2 separate regions of the Homo sapiens genome follow, and region 2 is linked to region 1. Evidence: fine-mapped expression QTL. A gene starts in region 1. The other region holds a variant in brackets. All regions are shown on one strand. Distances are from middle to middle. Region 1 holds the start of SCN1B (sodium voltage-gated channel beta subunit 1). Region 2 has its middle 8.4 kb from the start of KRTDAP.

Region 1 (8,328 bases):
GATTCAAGTCCAGCTCCCAATCACATGACCTTGGCCACATAACCTTCCCTCCCTGAGCCTTGGTTTTCTCATCCGTAAAATGGGGATAGGAAGAGCCCCTACCCCAGAGGGTGGGGAGAGGATTCACTAAGGGACTCCGTGTAAGGCACTGAGGCCGGCACCCATCTCACAGAAAAGATGGGCAGTGCGTGTTGCCCATGAGGATGTGTGTGCCGTGGCCCTGAGAGACCTTTCTGCCACGGCTTGTAGCTGCTTCAAGGCCTGGGCTGTTTCCCCAACTCTAAGCCAGTGGCCACAGGGCGCTGGACAATTGCAATTGATGCTGAGCAGAAGATGGATCAGAGAAGGGGCGGACCTCCCTCAGAAAAGGGGTCCAGGGTGGCTGAGGCAAAATGATGAGACGTTCAAAAGCGCTGTAGGCCCTTGCTGCTCAGAGGGTGGGCCCCGCACCTGTGGCCCTTCACTGCCTCACCTGAGAGCTTTAGAAAGGACCCCTAGGCCCGCCCCAGAGGTGTTGAGTGAGACTGCAGGCCAGCGCGGCTCCCCCGGGGCAGGAGTGCAGAGGGGTGTGCGGAACTCTGCTCTAGGTGGCACGCTCTCTTGCCTCATCACCACAGAGGGCAGCAGGGCTGAGCTACTCGAACAGTAAGAACCGCCACCCTCGCCACCACCTGCAAGGCTCTGCTGGAAGCCAGGCGTGTGCCTGCAGCTGCTCAATCCTCATGAACCCCATGATGGAAGAATGGCTCAAACCACACCCCGAGAAACACATCGGATTATTATCCCGGGCAAGCCCAGGACAACCCTTTGGCTCAGAGACAGAAGGCACCTGCCAGAGGTCATACAGCACAGGTGACAGAGCTGGGTTCTGTACCCGGAGCGTCTGTGGGGGACAGGCATGCTTTGACCTCTCCGTGGGCTGGAGAGAAACAGAGGCCAGAGCTGGAGTGGGCAGGAGGGGCTGCTCCCCTCCCCCTCAGCCCGCTGCTGTGGGCGGTTGGCTGGCCAGGCACAGAGCCAGCCTGTCCTGTCCACTGCCTGCCATCTGTCCCTCCATCTGGCTCTCCGGTGGGTGACGGTAAAGGGGCAGGCAGCACCCGACTCACCTTTGTCCACTACCTCAATGTGGATCTTCTTGACGACGCTGGTGTTGTGCTCGTAGTTTTCGAAGAAGAGCAGGCGGTAGACGTGGCACTCGTAGTCGCCCGAGTGGTTGTAGGTGACATTGGTGATGAAGATAGACAGATCCTGCAGGTCTTTGGTGCCCCGGCTGCCATTCCACACCACGCGGCCCTCGAAGCGCTCATCCTCCTCCAGCTGCAACACCTCATTCTCATAGCGCAGGATCTAGGGGTAGCCAGGGAGGGGAAGGTGTCACTGCCTGGGCCTCTCTTCCCTTACCTGACCCTGATTCTGTCCCCTGCCCTGACACCCACAAACACAGATGGCACACAGATGGGCTCAGACACCTTGACCTCAGGCAGGGAGGGCACAGGGGTGGGGGGCTAGGATCACGCCTGGAGTCAACCAGACCCCGCTTTTGCCTCTAGCCAAGATGCACACGAGCACACACACGTTCCTCAGTCATCCTCCCAAGCCCCATCTGGCCTCTAGGCTATCATTCTCTGCCGTTCTTTCCCAGCCACCAGACACACTCCTCCAGCAGAGACAGGGCAGCCTGATTCCAGCAGCTGGAGACCCCAACTCTCCAGCACGTCACAGAATTTTATGGTTCCCTCACCGATATATAATGCAAAATACACACATAGTTTAAAGGAGGTTAAAAAAAACAGTTCTGTCTTCCCTCCGTAATGACTATCAGAGACATTGTTTGCTGGTGCCAAATAAGTCCACTGACATTTATTTCATGCCAACCGTGTGCCAGGTGCGTCAATGCATTCAGTCCTCACACAAACCTATGGGCTAGAGACCACCGCCACCCCGTCTTTACCGAGGAGGAAACTGACTTTCAGAGAGGCTCACTGACTTGGCCAAGGTCACCAGCTGGCCACTGGTGGAGCCAGAATCTGAATCCAGGTCAGCAATCACAGCATATTATTAAACAAATAAGCCCCCTCCCTGAGATCCAGCCCCACCGCCTCCCACTCGTGGACCCCTGCCCTCCCATGCCCGTTCCCGGCACCCGCACACCTTGACAAACTCCTCAGTGCCCTTCTGGCGGAAGGTCCACTCGGTGAAGGTCTCAGCGTTGGTCTCGCTGCGGCGCTTGCAGGAGATGCAAAGAATTTTGAAGGTCATCCCATACACGGCCTCGGTCTCCGAGTCCACCTCCACGCAGCCCCCGCAGGCTGAGGACACTGTGGGGACAGCAGGCTCAGGTCAGGCAGAGGCACCCATTGCCCTAAGCAATGCCAGACCCCTCACAAACCATCTGTTCCCCCCTCAATGATTACCAGCAGACAGGACTGGATGCTAGGCTGAGCCCTGTCACTCACTGCGTGACCTCAGCAAGTCATTCATCCCTGAGTCTCAGTTTCCCTCTCTCTTGTTGAAAGAAATGGTCCTTTGCTTCCAGCAATGGCTGGGCCCATTTTCATACATTAGGTAGGGCCTTGTACATGGGAGGCCCCATAAGTGGGACTGTCAACGTTGCCGGTAACTCAGACTTTATGCTACCCGAGTGCCCCTTCCTCAGAAAGTCCCTTGCTGGAGGAACCCAAGCATCTAGGTGGTAGAATGAGAATTCCAGCTAAGTTAGAAGTTTAAGGTGGCAGTCATTTTCACCATTAAATTGTAAAACCAGCTAGCTCCAGGAGAAATGGGTTGGGAGAAAAGGTCTGGGGGTGGGGGATTGTGGGGAGGTGGGCACTGAAACCGGGGCTGACCCACACTCAGCCCCTCTCCACAGCCCACAAGCCCCTGTGTGAGCCATCCCCTCCCCGGCCTCTCCTGCCTCCATCATCCCCTCTTCCCCAGGCTCCTCGCCTCTAGAGCTCTTCCCACCCCAACCCCATCCACTACTCAAAGCTTTCCTGAGCTCTCTCCTGCCCCAGGGCTTTTGCAGCCCACTGAATTCCAGTCTTAGAATTCCTTCACACTCTTACCTGGCACCTCCTTTCTGCCTCCCAGCACTCTGTAGCTAACGCTGTGTCTCTTCTGCTGCAGCCCTGTGCTGTCCTTGTTTCCTGATCCTCAGGACTTCTCATCCATCCGCCTCCCCTGCGGTCCCTTTCAGACTCCCTGAGGGCCTCTGTCTCAGTCCCTCCTATCTTTGTCCCTCTCAGGGGTCTCTCTGAAGGTCCCTCCACTTTTTGTCCACTCTCTGGGCTCAGAAGGAGACCTCTCCTAATCTCTTTCCACCTTTCTACGTCTATCCCTTTTCAAACTCCATGCAAGATTCTCTCCCGGTGTTCACGGGCACCCGCATCTCCCTCTCTCTTCTCTCCATCTCCTTCTGCCTTTCTCAAGTTTCCCTTTCTCCATCGCGCTCAGTCTCTTAACTCTCTCTCTCTCTCTCTCTCTCCAATACCCCTCTCTCTGTCTCCGTCTCCCCCTTGACCCCCATGTCCCCAGCATCCCAGCGGACCACTCCGGTGCGCTCCGAGTCCTTCTCTGTCTCTCGCCCCCTTCCTCCCGTCTTCATCTCTCCCTGTCCCTCCGTCTTTCCCGTCCCAGTCTCCGGGCGCCGCCTTCCCCCCACCCCCCTCCCGCGGCTGTGGGTGTCACATTGCAGCCTGCGGGGCTCCGGGAGCAGCTGACTCCGCGTTTCCTCGCCCCCGGCTGGGCGCCTGCAGCCGCCAGGCTGTGCCAGCCCGGCCCCCACCCGCTGGAGCCCACCCTCACCTCCACTGCCCTCCCCAAGCCCGGCTCCCGCGCGCACAACTTCTGAAGCTGACTTGGCGGGGCCCGGGGATGGGCCGGGGGTGGCCCTCGCGCGGCTGCCCCGTGTCCCGAGCGCCACTCCCGCCGCCCCGCCAGTGCCCCCGCGGTGCCCCCCGGCCGCGCGCGCCCCCCGCGCACTCACCCAGTGCCGCGCCGACCACTAAGGCCAGCAGCCTCCCCATGGCTGCGCGGCGCGTGCTGCGCCCCCCTCCCGGGCCGCCGGTATTAATAGCGGGGCGAGAGGCGGCGGGACCTGGCGGCGGTTAGAATGTCCCCGGGAGCGCGCGGGCGCAGCAGCTGCGGCTCTGGGACCGGCGAGGGGGGAGGAGGGGGGGCGCGGCCCCCCCGCTCCGGTTACCGCCGGGGGCCCAGCCCCGGGGCCCGGCGTCCGGGCATCCCCGCCGCGCGGGCGGCGGCCGCTGCTCGGGCTGCTGCGCTGGCGCGCGCAGCCGGGCACATCCGCTAGGTGCACCGACCCCGGTCCCGCTCCGGCTCGGGCGCGCTCGGGCGCGGACCGCGGTCTCCTGCGCACTGCAGCGGCGGCGGCGGCGGCGGCGGCGGCGGCCTAGGGAGGGACGAGGGAGGAGAGGGAGGGGGCGGGATGAATCACCGCGGGGGGAAGGCGCGGCCGCCCAGCCTTTGCCGCAGCGGCCCGGGAGGCGCCCGCTGCACCGGCCTCTCCGGGTGGCGCAGGGACCGCGACTTCTGGGAACGGGGAGGGTGGTCTGTGTGTCTCCGACCCCGCTGGGGCTCTGAGGACCACCCCCCCCCCCCCACCTTCCCAGGGAGTCTGGAAAGGTCACCCCCAGAGTCACAGGAGGACTTAGAGCGCAGTTTGGGGGCCGGGTTTCCGACTTCAAATGATGGAGGTCATCCTCAGGAGTTCCAGAGGGCGAACCTCCAAGTTATCTCCCCTGAGCCCTGATATCCAGGCCTGGGGGTCAATGTGCAGGGACCCCAAGTAGGCATTAGAGGAGGGTGGGGGGCCGTCAGGCTAGGACTACAGCTACAATCCGGACCTCACCCAAGCAGGCGGGGCACCCTGGAGAGAAGCAGCCCCGGGAATCTGGAGGTGCTGTTTCAGGAGGAGGACCCCTTCGTGATCCCCTGCACCCATTTATGTCCCTGATGTCACCTTCTACCCCTCTTTCCTCCCACTCCACTCTGGCTGTTCAGGCCCTCCTGCTGTTCCCAACACAGGGAACCCGTTCCTGCCTCAGGGCCTTGGCCCCAGCTCTCCCCTCTGCCCCGGCTCTCCCCCCCTGCCCCGCCCCTCTCCGTGGGCCTCCATGGCTCCAATGTCACCTTCGTCAGGTCTTCTGTGTCCCTTCAGGGTAAACTGCCTTCCCCGCTCCTAACCTGACCTCCTTTACTCTTTACCTCTTGTTGAGTGTTTTCCACAGCAGCCTCACTACCTGACATTATGTTCTTTTTTTTTTTTTTTTTTTTTTTTTTTTTTTGAGATAGGGTCTGGCTCTGTTGCCCAGGCTGGAGTGCAGTGGCTGATCTCGTCTCACTGCAACCTCCGCCTCCCGGGTTCAAGCGATTATCCTGCCGCAACCTCCCAAGTAGCTGGGAGTACAGGTGTGCACCATCATGCCTGGCTAATTTTTTTATTTTTTAGTAGAGACAGGGTTTCACCATGTTGACCATGCTGGGATTACAGATGTGAGCCGCCCCCCGCTATCCCAGCACTTTGGGAGGCCAAGGGGGGCAGATCACCTGAGGACAGGAGTTCGAGACCAGCCTGACGAGCATGGTGAAACCCCGTCTCTACTAACAATACAAAAAAAATTAGCTGGGAGTGGTGGTGGGCACCTGTAATCCCAGTTACTTGGGAGGCTGAGGAAGAATCGCTTGAACCCGGGAGGCAGAGGTTGCAGTGAGCCAAGATCGCATCACTGCACTCCAGCCTGGGCAACAAGAGCGAAACTCCGTCTCAAAAAAAAAGGCCGGGCGCAGTGGCTCACGCTTGTAATTCCAGCATTCTGGGAGGCCGAGGTGGGCGGATCACGAGGTCAAGAGATCGAGACCATCCTGGCCAACATGGTGAAACCCCATCTCTACTAAAAATACAAAAATTAGCTGGGCGTGGGGGCACATGCCTGTAGTCCCAGCTACTCAGGAGGCTGAGGCAGGAGAATCGCTTGAACCCGGGAGGCAGAGGTGGCAATGAGCCGAGATCACACCACTGCACTCCAGCCTGGTGACAGAGTGAGACTCCATGTAAAAAAAAAAAAAAAAAAAAAAAAAAAAAATCTCCCAGGTGAGGATATTGTCTTGTGTCTCTTGCACCTTGAACTGTTCCTGGCACATTGTAGGTACTCAATCAATATTTGTCAAACAAATAAATGAATGCCAATGTTCACTAAGTCCTTGGGATTTGCAGAACCCACTTCTACTGCCCCAAACCTTCAGCAAGTTCTATTATCCCCATTTTACAGATGAAGAAACTGAGGCTGGGAGAGGGCCGTGCCCCTGCCCAGAGTCATGTAGCTGGCCTAGGATGGATGTGGAATCCTGCCCCAGCAGTGGTGAGTGGCCTGTCCTACCAGTAGGTTCTGCCAAATTGAGAGAATGGAGATGGGAGTTCTGGGCTGTCAGGACCAGGGTGGGAGTGAGACTCTCGGCTGAAGGGTCACTACCCAGATCCTAGCCTCCAATTCCGGGTGGGGTAAGGTCTCAGAATCCCCCTGGCCCAGCCCTGCCAGGCAAGAGGAGCCAGGGTGTGGGGCAGGACCATGGCAGAGGGGCAGGGAGCCAGGGACATCCGACACCTCTGTGGTCTAGACTTTTACGCCAGCACCTTCTGAGCTGTGAAATTCCCCTGCAGAGAATAACCCTCTTGCTGTTCCGGGCCCTTCCACTGGTGGGGGATGGTAGGTGAAGGCACAGTGAGGACAGGCCTCAGCACTGGACAGGAGGCACCTCACGGCCCTATAAGCTATGTTCAGTGAGCACCTACTATGTATGGGCTTGGTGCTGTTCTAAGCATTCTAAGCACTTTACTAACATTAGCTCATTTAATTTTTCCTATAGGTGGTATTATTATTACACCCATATTACAGATATAGAAGACTGAGGCTCAGCATGGGTACCTTGCCATGATCACACAACTAGAGGATAGGAGAGGCTGGCTCTGCCTCCTATGCCACTCCTGATCCACTCTCCAAACCCTCCTCCAGTCCCCTGCTCCAAGCCATCAGTTAGGATGATTCTTATAGCCGGGGGTGTGACATGCCAAAGGTGTCTCTACCCCACATACTCCCTCTGGAACCAGGACAAGGTTTGCGTGAGGTGGACCTGGGTTCTTTCTGGACCAGGGACTTTGCCTCCAAGCTCATTTCCTCATCTGTAAAACAGGAATCCAACCAACGTCAGCCTGAATGGGCTGTGGTGGGGTCCTGAGGGGGTTAGGACCTTGCATGTAAATGTGGAGACCCCAGGGGTCAGGCCTGGAGTCTGCCTCCCTGCTGGGTAGCCTCGGGCGTGTACATCTTTGTCTCCACCTCATGGAATCACTGTGAGAATAAAATGAACATCAGATCTTGGCACAGAGCTGGGTACGTACGTACTTGGTACTCACTACGCGAGTTACTTTTTTCCCTCTATTTTTATGCAATAAGTGTAACATTTATTGAATACTTACTCCATTCCATCTGTGCCGGGCCCTGTTATAAGTAGCCACATTTATGAACTCCTTGAACCTATAATAGTGGTTCTCAAAGTGTGGTCTGGGGCTGGGCGTGGTGGCTCACGCCTGAAATCTCAACACTTTGGGAAGCTGAGGCGGGAGGATCGCTTGAGGCCAGGAGTTCAAGACTGGCCTGGGCAACACAGTGAGATCCCATCTCCAAAAAGAAATAAAAAATTAGCCGGGCGTGGTGGCTTACACCTGTAGTCCAAGCTACTCAGAAGGCTGAGGTGGGAGGATGGCTTGAGCACAGGAGGTCGAAGCTGCTGTGAGCCATGTTTGTGCCACTGCACTCCAGCCTGGGCGACAGAGACCCTAACTTAAAACAAACAAACAAAAAACCAAAGTGTCGTCTGGGATGGCACCATGAGCAACTCCTGGGAACTCGTTATAAAGGCAGAATCCCAGCCCTGCCCCAGACCTACTGAACCAGAAATTTGGAGGGAGGGGCCCACAGTCTGTTTTTCATCAAGCTCTCCAGGAGATTCGAATGCAGCTCAAGTTTGAGAACCACTGCCTTCTAACAACCCTGAGAGACAGCTACTGCCATTCTACCCATTGCACAGGAAAGCTCACTGGAGCTCCAGGGGGCTGACCTGCTGCATTTACACCACTGCTAGGAAGCAGGATTTGAACTCCAGCTACCACGGTCTGTCCCCGGAGTTCCTGCGTTGACCTCAGATGATGTAAAGCTTGTGTAAGATGCTGCGGGAATTCCAGATCGTTTCAGTGACTATGGCCCCAGAACACAGACAGAGGTCCCCTCCCCACCATGGCAGGATCTGAGTGCA
Region 2 (8,328 bases), 450 kb before region 1:
AAGAAAACTAGCAGCGTGACCTTGAGTCTTCCTAAGCCTCTGTTTCTTTATCCGTGAAATGAGTATGGAGATAAATAAGAATGATAACCACTCTGTGGTGTTGTTATGAAGGTCAAATGACATAAGTATATAAAGCCCCTTGCACACGGCCAGGCATATAGTAGATAGTGTATCTCTACTCCCCCAGTTTCAACCAGAGAGCAGCCGCAATGATCCAGATTCACTCATTCACTCGCGCATCCATCCATCCACCCAGCCATCCACCCACCCATCCACCCATCCACCCACCCATCCATCCATCCATCCATCCATCCATCCATCCATCCATCCATCCATCCATCCACTGCAAAGATCTTGAAACATGAAATGGATTTAGTTTTGCTTCCTGTAGATGTATTTTCTCTGACCCAATTTGTGTACTTAAAATACTAAACTAGTTGGAATTGTTTCTGGTTTCTCTTGAAAACTGGGAAGATTAGAGAACAGTGGACCTGCGACTGGCTTAAAGCCAAGTAGCAGCTGCCCTCTTTACACAGGACATGGCTTCCAGGGAACTTTCTACTTGGCAAGCTTCACTTGTTTACATTGCCTTTGGCCTTTATAAGCAACTGCGTTTGTAAACCATCAACTGCAGTTTAATCGAGGAAGTGGACTACAAGGGAAATTAAACTTGGTTCCTACTTTCAAGGCGCTTACAGACCAGGTGAATGAGACATGTAAATGTTCCTGGCCGGGCACGGTGGCTCACACCTGTAATCCCAGCACTTTGGGAGGCCAAGGTGGGTGTATCCCTTGAGGTCAGGAGTTTGAGACCAGCCTGGGTAACATGGCAAAACCCCATCTCTACTAAAAACACAAAATTAGGTGGGCGGATCACATGAGGTCAGGAGTTCGAGACCAGCCTAGCCAACATGGTGAAACCCCATCTCTACTAAAAATACAAAACTGAGCCGGGTGTGGTGATGCATGTCTGTAATCCCAGCTACTCAGGAGGCTGAGGCACGAGAATCGCTTGAATCCGGAAGGCGGAGGTTGCAGTGAGCCAAAATTGTACCACTACACTCCAGCCTCGGTGAGAGAGCAAGACTCTGTCAAAAAAAAAAAAAAAGTTGCTTATGCTCTTCCTTCCAATACACACAAAGGAGAGGAAAGCTATAAATGGAATAACCAACAGAGAAGAAAACTATGGACACTGGTGAAATGCCACAATCAGTTGAAATACTTAGTGAAGATTGTGCACTCACAAACTAGGTGATAGGAAATGGAGTACAGGAAGAAGAGGGGAGGTGCTTAAGGGACACCCATCGAGTGACTAGGTTTTAGGGGAGGAGTAAAGCATCCCCAGGGGACTAGGAGTCACGATACACAAGTTAAGAGTATCTCTGAGATAAGGCGGTAGTTCTCAAAGTGTGGTCCCCACGCTGGCAGCACCAGGATCCCCTGGGAACTGAAAAGAAATGCAAATTCTTGGGCCCCACTTCAGATCTACTAAGTGCGAAACCAGGGGTGGGGCCCAGCAATCTGTGTTTTGACAAGCCCTCTAAGCAAGTCTGATTCACTAAAGTCTGAGAACCACTTCAAAAAGGAACGTCAGAGAACTTAAGATTAACCCAGAATCAGGATAGTAGTTGCCCCTTAGATGGAGAGATCCCATGTGATAGGAGAGTGGCACATAGGAGATAAGGGGGGACGGTGTGTGACAGAAGCCACTTCTATATCATGTTTCATTTCTTCTTTAAATATGTACATTTTATGCACACCTATGCATGTTGTATTTCACAATAACATATTATTAAAGCCAGAGAACACCAGATCAATTTGCAAGTGCTGACAGAATACACAGTCAAGAAACAATTGGAGTCTAGAGAGACTGCAATCTGAACCAAAAAGAAAAAGACAAAGTGAAGTGTAGACAAGCTGTGCACATGAGTGACAGATGTATACTAGCTAGATCATGTGAAATTGACAAAATGCACAAACATGGGTCAGGCCATTCAGAGGATTCAAAGAATGGAAGACATAGCACCTGTTCTCCCTGGGGATGACCTGTACATTTCCCATCAGGTAGAGGAGATAACTCAACACTGGAGACTTGAATCTGCATAAGCAAATCTTATTAAATAACCTTTATTTAATAAAAGGCAGGAAGTAGTCACTCTTCATTTTATACTTTATAAAAACAATAACAAATGCATTTTTTTTTTTTGAGACGGAGTTTCACTCTGTTGCTCAGGCTGGAGTGCAGTGGTGCAATCTTGGCTCACCACAACCTCTGCTTCCCAGGTTCAAACGATTCTCCTGCCTCAGCCTCCTGAGAAGATGGAATTACATCTTCTACATGGGTGCCCGCCACCATGTCCGGCTAATTTTTGTATTTTTAGTAGAGATGGGGTTTTGCCACGTCAGCCAGGCTGGTCTTGAACTCCTGACTTCAGGTGATCCGCCTGCACTGGACTCCCAAAGTGCAGGGATTACAGGTGTGAACCACCATGCCTGGCCAACAAATGAATCTTGTGTGGATACTATACCATCTGTTCAACAGGATGTAGAGATATACACTGAGCTATGAAACAATCTCCAAGATAGAGTAAAATGAAAAAAAGAAAGTGGCAGATCATTATGCTGCCATGTGGTTAAAATAAAGATATGGTACAAATATATGCTATTATCTGCATATTATCTGCTATTATCTGGAATAAAACTTGAGAAGTAACAGTGATAACTTTTGAAAAGTTAGATACTTTCACTGTGTACCCTTTTGGATTTTATGAACAAAAATGTTTTACCATGTGCAAATTACATATTCAAAAGAATAAATTAAAATCAAAACTTTCTAGTAAAGCAAACAAACACCAAAAAAACGCTTTGCACTGTAAAGTGGTAGGGCCTAGTCCATGCAGTGACCCAGAGTAGGTGCCTCTTAACTGAATGAATGAAACTGATTTCTCACATTTACCACACCCTTTTGCTACTCAGAGTGTGGTCCCCGAGCCAGCGGCATCAGCATCACTTGGTGCTTGCTTGCTAGAAATGCAGAAGCTCTGCTCACCCAGAGCTAATGCATCAGAATTTTAACAAGACCCCTGCCCCTGGATGATTCACATGTGGAATAACGTTTGAGAAGCACGGCCTTGGGCATGATGTTGAGTGCTATGCAGAAGGCCTTCAAGGAGTTATGATCCAGTTGATACTTACGATAAAGGAAGCATCCAGGGAGAAGGCACTAGATACCTTAGAACGATATGTTTAAATCTGACAGAAGGGAGGAGATAGTTTTGCACCAGGGTAAGAAAACTGGGGAAAGTAACTTTGAATTTGGCATTCATAAATGAACTTAAAAAAAAAAAAAGTCCCTGTCATACTCAGCCAGGACATAAAGGGACTAAAAACCAAAGCCAAACTAAGTGATTACTTTGGGAGGCTTCTGGGAATCAACTCATTTAAAAAACTGGTAAATAAAGGAAATGAATCAAGGATTCATCCTTACTTTCCTCTATGAACTATATACTTCAGGGTAAACAGTTTCTCTCTCTCTCTCTTTTTTTTTTTTTTTTTTTTTTGAGACAGCGTCTTGCTCTTTCACCGAGGCTGGAGTGCAGTGGCATGATCTTGGCTGGAGGCAGCCTTCACCTCCCTGGCTCAAGCAATCCTCCTGCCTCAGCCTCCTGAGTAGTTGGAACTACAGGCACAAGCCACCACACCTGGTATATTTTTAAATTTTTTGTAGGATGGGTGTCTTGCTATGTTGCCCAGGGTGGTCTTCAACTCCTGACCTCAAGTGATCCTCTGGCCTTGGCCTCCCAAAGTGTTGAAATTACAGGCATGCGCCACCATGCCCAGCTGGCACAATTTTTCTTTATACGAGAATTTGAAACTAATAAATGCAAAAGAAATAATAGAATATTTTCGTTTTTCAAAATTTAATAAAATAATGAATGTAGGCTAGCATCTGTAGGGAAGGAAAAAAACATTTTTTTCTACTGTCTTAGGTTCAGTGGCTGTGGCATGCTAATTACATTAACAAAAGAGGCCAGGCACAGTGGCTCATGCCT[G/C]TAATCCTAGCACTTTGGGAGGCCGAGGCAGGTGGATCACCTGAGGTCAAGAGTTCGAGACCAGCCAGACCAATATGGTGAAACGCCATCTCTACTGAAAATACAAAAATTAGCTGGGCATGGTGGCGCATGCCTGTAGTCCCAGCTACTCAGGAGGCTGAGACAGGAGAATTGCTTGAACCTGGGAGGCAGAGGTAGCAGTAAGCCGAGATCACACAACTGTACTCCAGCCTGGGCGACAGAGTGAGACTCCATCTTAAAAAAAAAAATTAACAAAAGATAGATTAGCAGGAGAAAAGGCTTATTATGCATGCATCCAGGAGCTTCACAGAAAAGAAGTGAAAACCTAAAGAAGTGGCCAGGCTTGAGGCTCATATACCGTTTTAACAAAGGGTGATAAATCGTGGAAAAGTAAGCTGGGCATGGTGGCTCATGCCTGTAATCCCAGCACTTTGGGAGGCTGAGGAAAGCGGATCACTTGAGGTCAGGAGTTCGAGACCAGCCTGGCCAACATGGTGAAACCCCATCTCTACTAAAAATACAAAAACATTAGCCAGGTGTGGTGGTGCACACCTGTAATCCCAACTACCCAGGAGCTGAGGCATGAAAATCCCTTGAACCTGGGAGGTAGAGGTTGCAGTGAGCCCAGATCACACCACTGTACTCCAGCATGGGCGACAGAGTGAGACTCTGTCTAAAAAAAAAAAAAAAAAAAATTGTGGAAAAGTGACAAAACGGTGAAAAAGGGATTTGGACATCCAGGTGATGTAAATTGTGGGAAGGTAAGTAAAATATACAGGGGAAATTAATGGAAGATAAAGGGTTATTTAGCAAGATTTGCTTATGCAGATTCAAGTCTCCAGCGTTGAGTTATCTCCTCTACCTGATGGGAAATGTATACCCTGCTTTAGGCAGAAAGGGAGAGGACAGAGAGTTCCTCTTCTGTCTGCTGCTTCTTAATTGCCTTCTACTCAAAATAATCCTTATGCTAAAGCAGCATACTTTGGAGTAGCACATGCTAATCCCTTCACATTAATGACTGCCAAACCCGGCAGGTGAAATGCTGATGGGGAAATTTATGGTGGTGGATCAGGCTCACAACCAGTGAACCCATGTATCTATCCAACACCCAGAGAGAGAAGAGACAAGCTTCTGCAGACCTGATGCAACAGAAAGCACAGGGCCCCACATAGGAAGCATTCTTGCCAAAAATCAACTCCAAACCTGATTAAAACTCTAGACTCTAGATCTAACTACCAGTTTGCAGGGGGATGAAAAGGCACAGAGGAACACAGTAAAGGATTCTACAGGAAAGATGTTAATAACTCCCCCCAACCTTGGCATTTCCTGTGAGAAATTCTAGAAAACTGATAATCCAGCTTCTTCAACAAAAACACTGTAGAAGAGTCGGGCACGGTGACTCACGCCTATAATCCCAGCACTTTGGGAGGCTGAGGTGGGCAGATCACCTGAGGTCAGGAGTTCGAGACCAGCCTGACCCACATGGAGCAACCCTGTCTCTACTAAAAATACAAAATTAGCCAGGTGTGGTGGCACATGCCTGTAATTCCAGCTACTTGGGAGGCTGAGGCAGGAGAATTGCTTGAACCCAGGAGGAGGCAGAGGTTGCAGTGAGCCGAGATTGCACCATTGCACTCCAGCCTGGGCAACAAGAGCGAAACTCCATCCAAAAAAAAAAAAAGCCACTGTAGAAAAAAAGGGAAAGGGGAAAAAAAGATAAAAATTGATGAGGCCGGGCATGGTGGCTCACACCTGTATTCCCACCACTTCAGGAGGCCGAGGGGGGTGGATCACCTGAGGTCAAGAGTTCAAAATCAGCTTGGCCTACATGGTGAAGCCCTGTCTCTACTAAAAATACAAAAATTAGTCGGGCGTGGGGGTGCACACCTGTTATTTCCAGCTATTCGGGAGGATGAGGCAGGAGAATGTCTTGAACCTGGGAGCCAGAGGTTGCAGTGAGCCAAGATTGTGCCACTGCATGCCAGCCTGGGTGACAGAATAAGACTCAGTCTCAAAAAAAAGTTGATTGAAGGGACCCATCACTTAAATGCAACATATGAATCTTGTCTATATCCTAATTTGAACAAACCAACTGGGAGAGAAAAAGATTTAGGAGACAACGAAGGAAACCTGAACACGGACATATTGATAATAAGACATTATCATCTTTGGTCTGGGCATGGCGGCTCACGCCTGTAATCTCAGCTCTTTGATTTGGGAGGCCGAGGTGGGTGGATTGCTTGAGTCCAAGAGTTCAAGACCAGCCTGGTCAACATAGTGAGATTCCGTCTCTAAAAAAAAAATTAAAAAAAAGAAACAATAAAAAAAATAAAAAGAAATTATATTTTTAGATGTGAAAATATTATTGTAGTTATGTTAAAAAAGAGTCTTTACCTTGCAGATACCTAATGATAAATCTATGTCTGAAGTAATAAACTCTTTAGGATTTGCTTCAAAATAATCCAGTGGGGGGAACAGGTTGGGGTACACAAGAAATAAGGTCGGTAATTACCTAATAAAAAACGAGGTTCATTATACTAGCTTTTTATTTTTGCAAATTTTGAAATATTCTACAATAACAGTTTCTTAAAATATTCAAAAAATTTCCAGAGTATGCTTTTAGAGGAGGGAGGGGGGAAGAGGGCCCTCCAGTGGGCAGAGCACGAAGAACTGGTAGTGCGGGATTCTGGACTGGGAACGCTGTCATTCAGCCGGGCTATCCCGTAGGCGTGGAGGCCTGGAAATGCAGGTTGGGTCAGATGATGGGGGGCTGAAAAATTTCCACTCAATCCCATCGTCAGTAAAGACAGTCCCGAAGGTGGTAACAGCCACAGCCACAATTCAATAGCAGCCATTCTTAATTTGGTTCTTATCACGCGCCAGGCTTTATGCCAAGTGCTTTGCATATATTATCTCAGTTGATCCGCAAAACAAACCTATTAGGTTGGCATCATTATCCCCATATTACAAACAAAGAAATTGAATCTCAGAGAGATAAGTACAGTCATGCTCTGTATAATGACGTTTCGGTCAACAACAGACGGCATAAACAACAGTGGTCCCAAAAGATTATATCATATTTGTACTGTACCTTTTCTATGTTTAGAAACACAAATGCTTATTGTGTTACAGTTGCCTGCAGCATTCAGTCCAGTGACATGCTGGGCAGGTTTGCAGCCTAAGAGCCATAAGCTATACCACACAGCCTAGGTGTGGAGTAGGCGATACGATAAAGGTTTGTGTAAGTGCACTCTGCTGTTCTTCATTTCTCAAAACGTATCTCCACCATTAAGTGATGACGGAGACTGTAATCTGTTCAAGCTCACACAGCCAGGACCCGGCAGAGCCAGGATTGAACCCGTACCTGCATTATCCCTGCTTTAACTGGTGTAATTTGGCCTTCACTTGCTTTATAACCTACTGTTTCATTTAAGACTTTGCTTGAAAAAAAAAATGTTTCCATTCCTTAAAAAATGTTTGGAAACCACTGCTAAGTATCCGCTGGAGGCATTTAAGGTGGTACAACTTAGCGGTTAGAATATGAGTTATAAAATCAGTCAGACCTGATTTCAAATTCTGTTCCTACCACTTTACTAGCTACGTGACCTCTGGGTGGCTACTCTGTCAGGGCCAAAGTTTCATCATTTGTAAAGTGGGAATAATAGCAATACTTCACAAGGGTTTAGAAAACCTCAGTAAATGTTAGCCTAGATTTTTTCATGTTAATAAAAGGTAGCTGTTATTATTATGCTATAAAACTCCACTTAGATAATGACTCAGATAGAGTCATACTTAGAGAAATAATATTTGCAACTGTATTCACTTGCTCTCTTCTGACAGATGAGGAAACTGAGGCCCATAAAGATGAAGTGACTTTCCTAAGAGCACCCACAGAAGAAATAGCAGAGCCAGGCTTTCAACTCAGGTTCTATTAGATTTCAGAGCCCTAGAATTTTTAACTATTTTAGTTTCTTGTGTTGGCTGGGTGCAGTGGTTCACATCTATAATCCTAGTGCTTTGGGAGGCCAAGGCAGGTGGATCATTTGAGGCCAAGAGTTCAAGACCAGCCTCTGCAAGATAGTGAGACCCCTGTTTCTCCAAAAAATCATGAAAAAATTAGCCAGGCATGGTGGTGCATGCTTGTAGCCCCAGCTACTTGGGAGGCTGAGGTGAGAGGATCACTTAGCCCAAGGAGTTCAAGGCTACAGTGAGCTATGATGGCAACACTACACTCCAGTCTGAACCAGACCCTGGC

Evidence for each region. PIP is the estimated chance that this variant, and not a neighbour inherited with it, causes the effect.
Region 2: its variant is fine-mapped to the expression of SCN1B in unexposed skin (GTEx, PIP 0.98).

Annotation. Positions count from the first base shown.
Region 1 is chr19:35,026,518-35,034,845 of GRCh38, reverse strand. It overlaps SCN1B (sodium voltage-gated channel beta subunit 1), which reads right to left and starts at 4,376. Exons shown (of 6, transcript NM_001037.5): 1 at 3,986-4,376; 2 at 2,152-2,318; 3 at 1,107-1,347. The coding sequence starts at 4,025. RefSeq lists silencers at 3,799-3,907, 4,247-4,406.
Region 2 is chr19:35,477,933-35,486,260 of GRCh38, reverse strand. No RefSeq gene overlaps it. Among named protein-coding and RNA genes, the nearest start is that of KRTDAP, 8.4 kb to the left of the region's middle. RefSeq lists a silencer at 1,443-1,532. The variant G/C (reference allele first, on the strand shown) is at 4,053.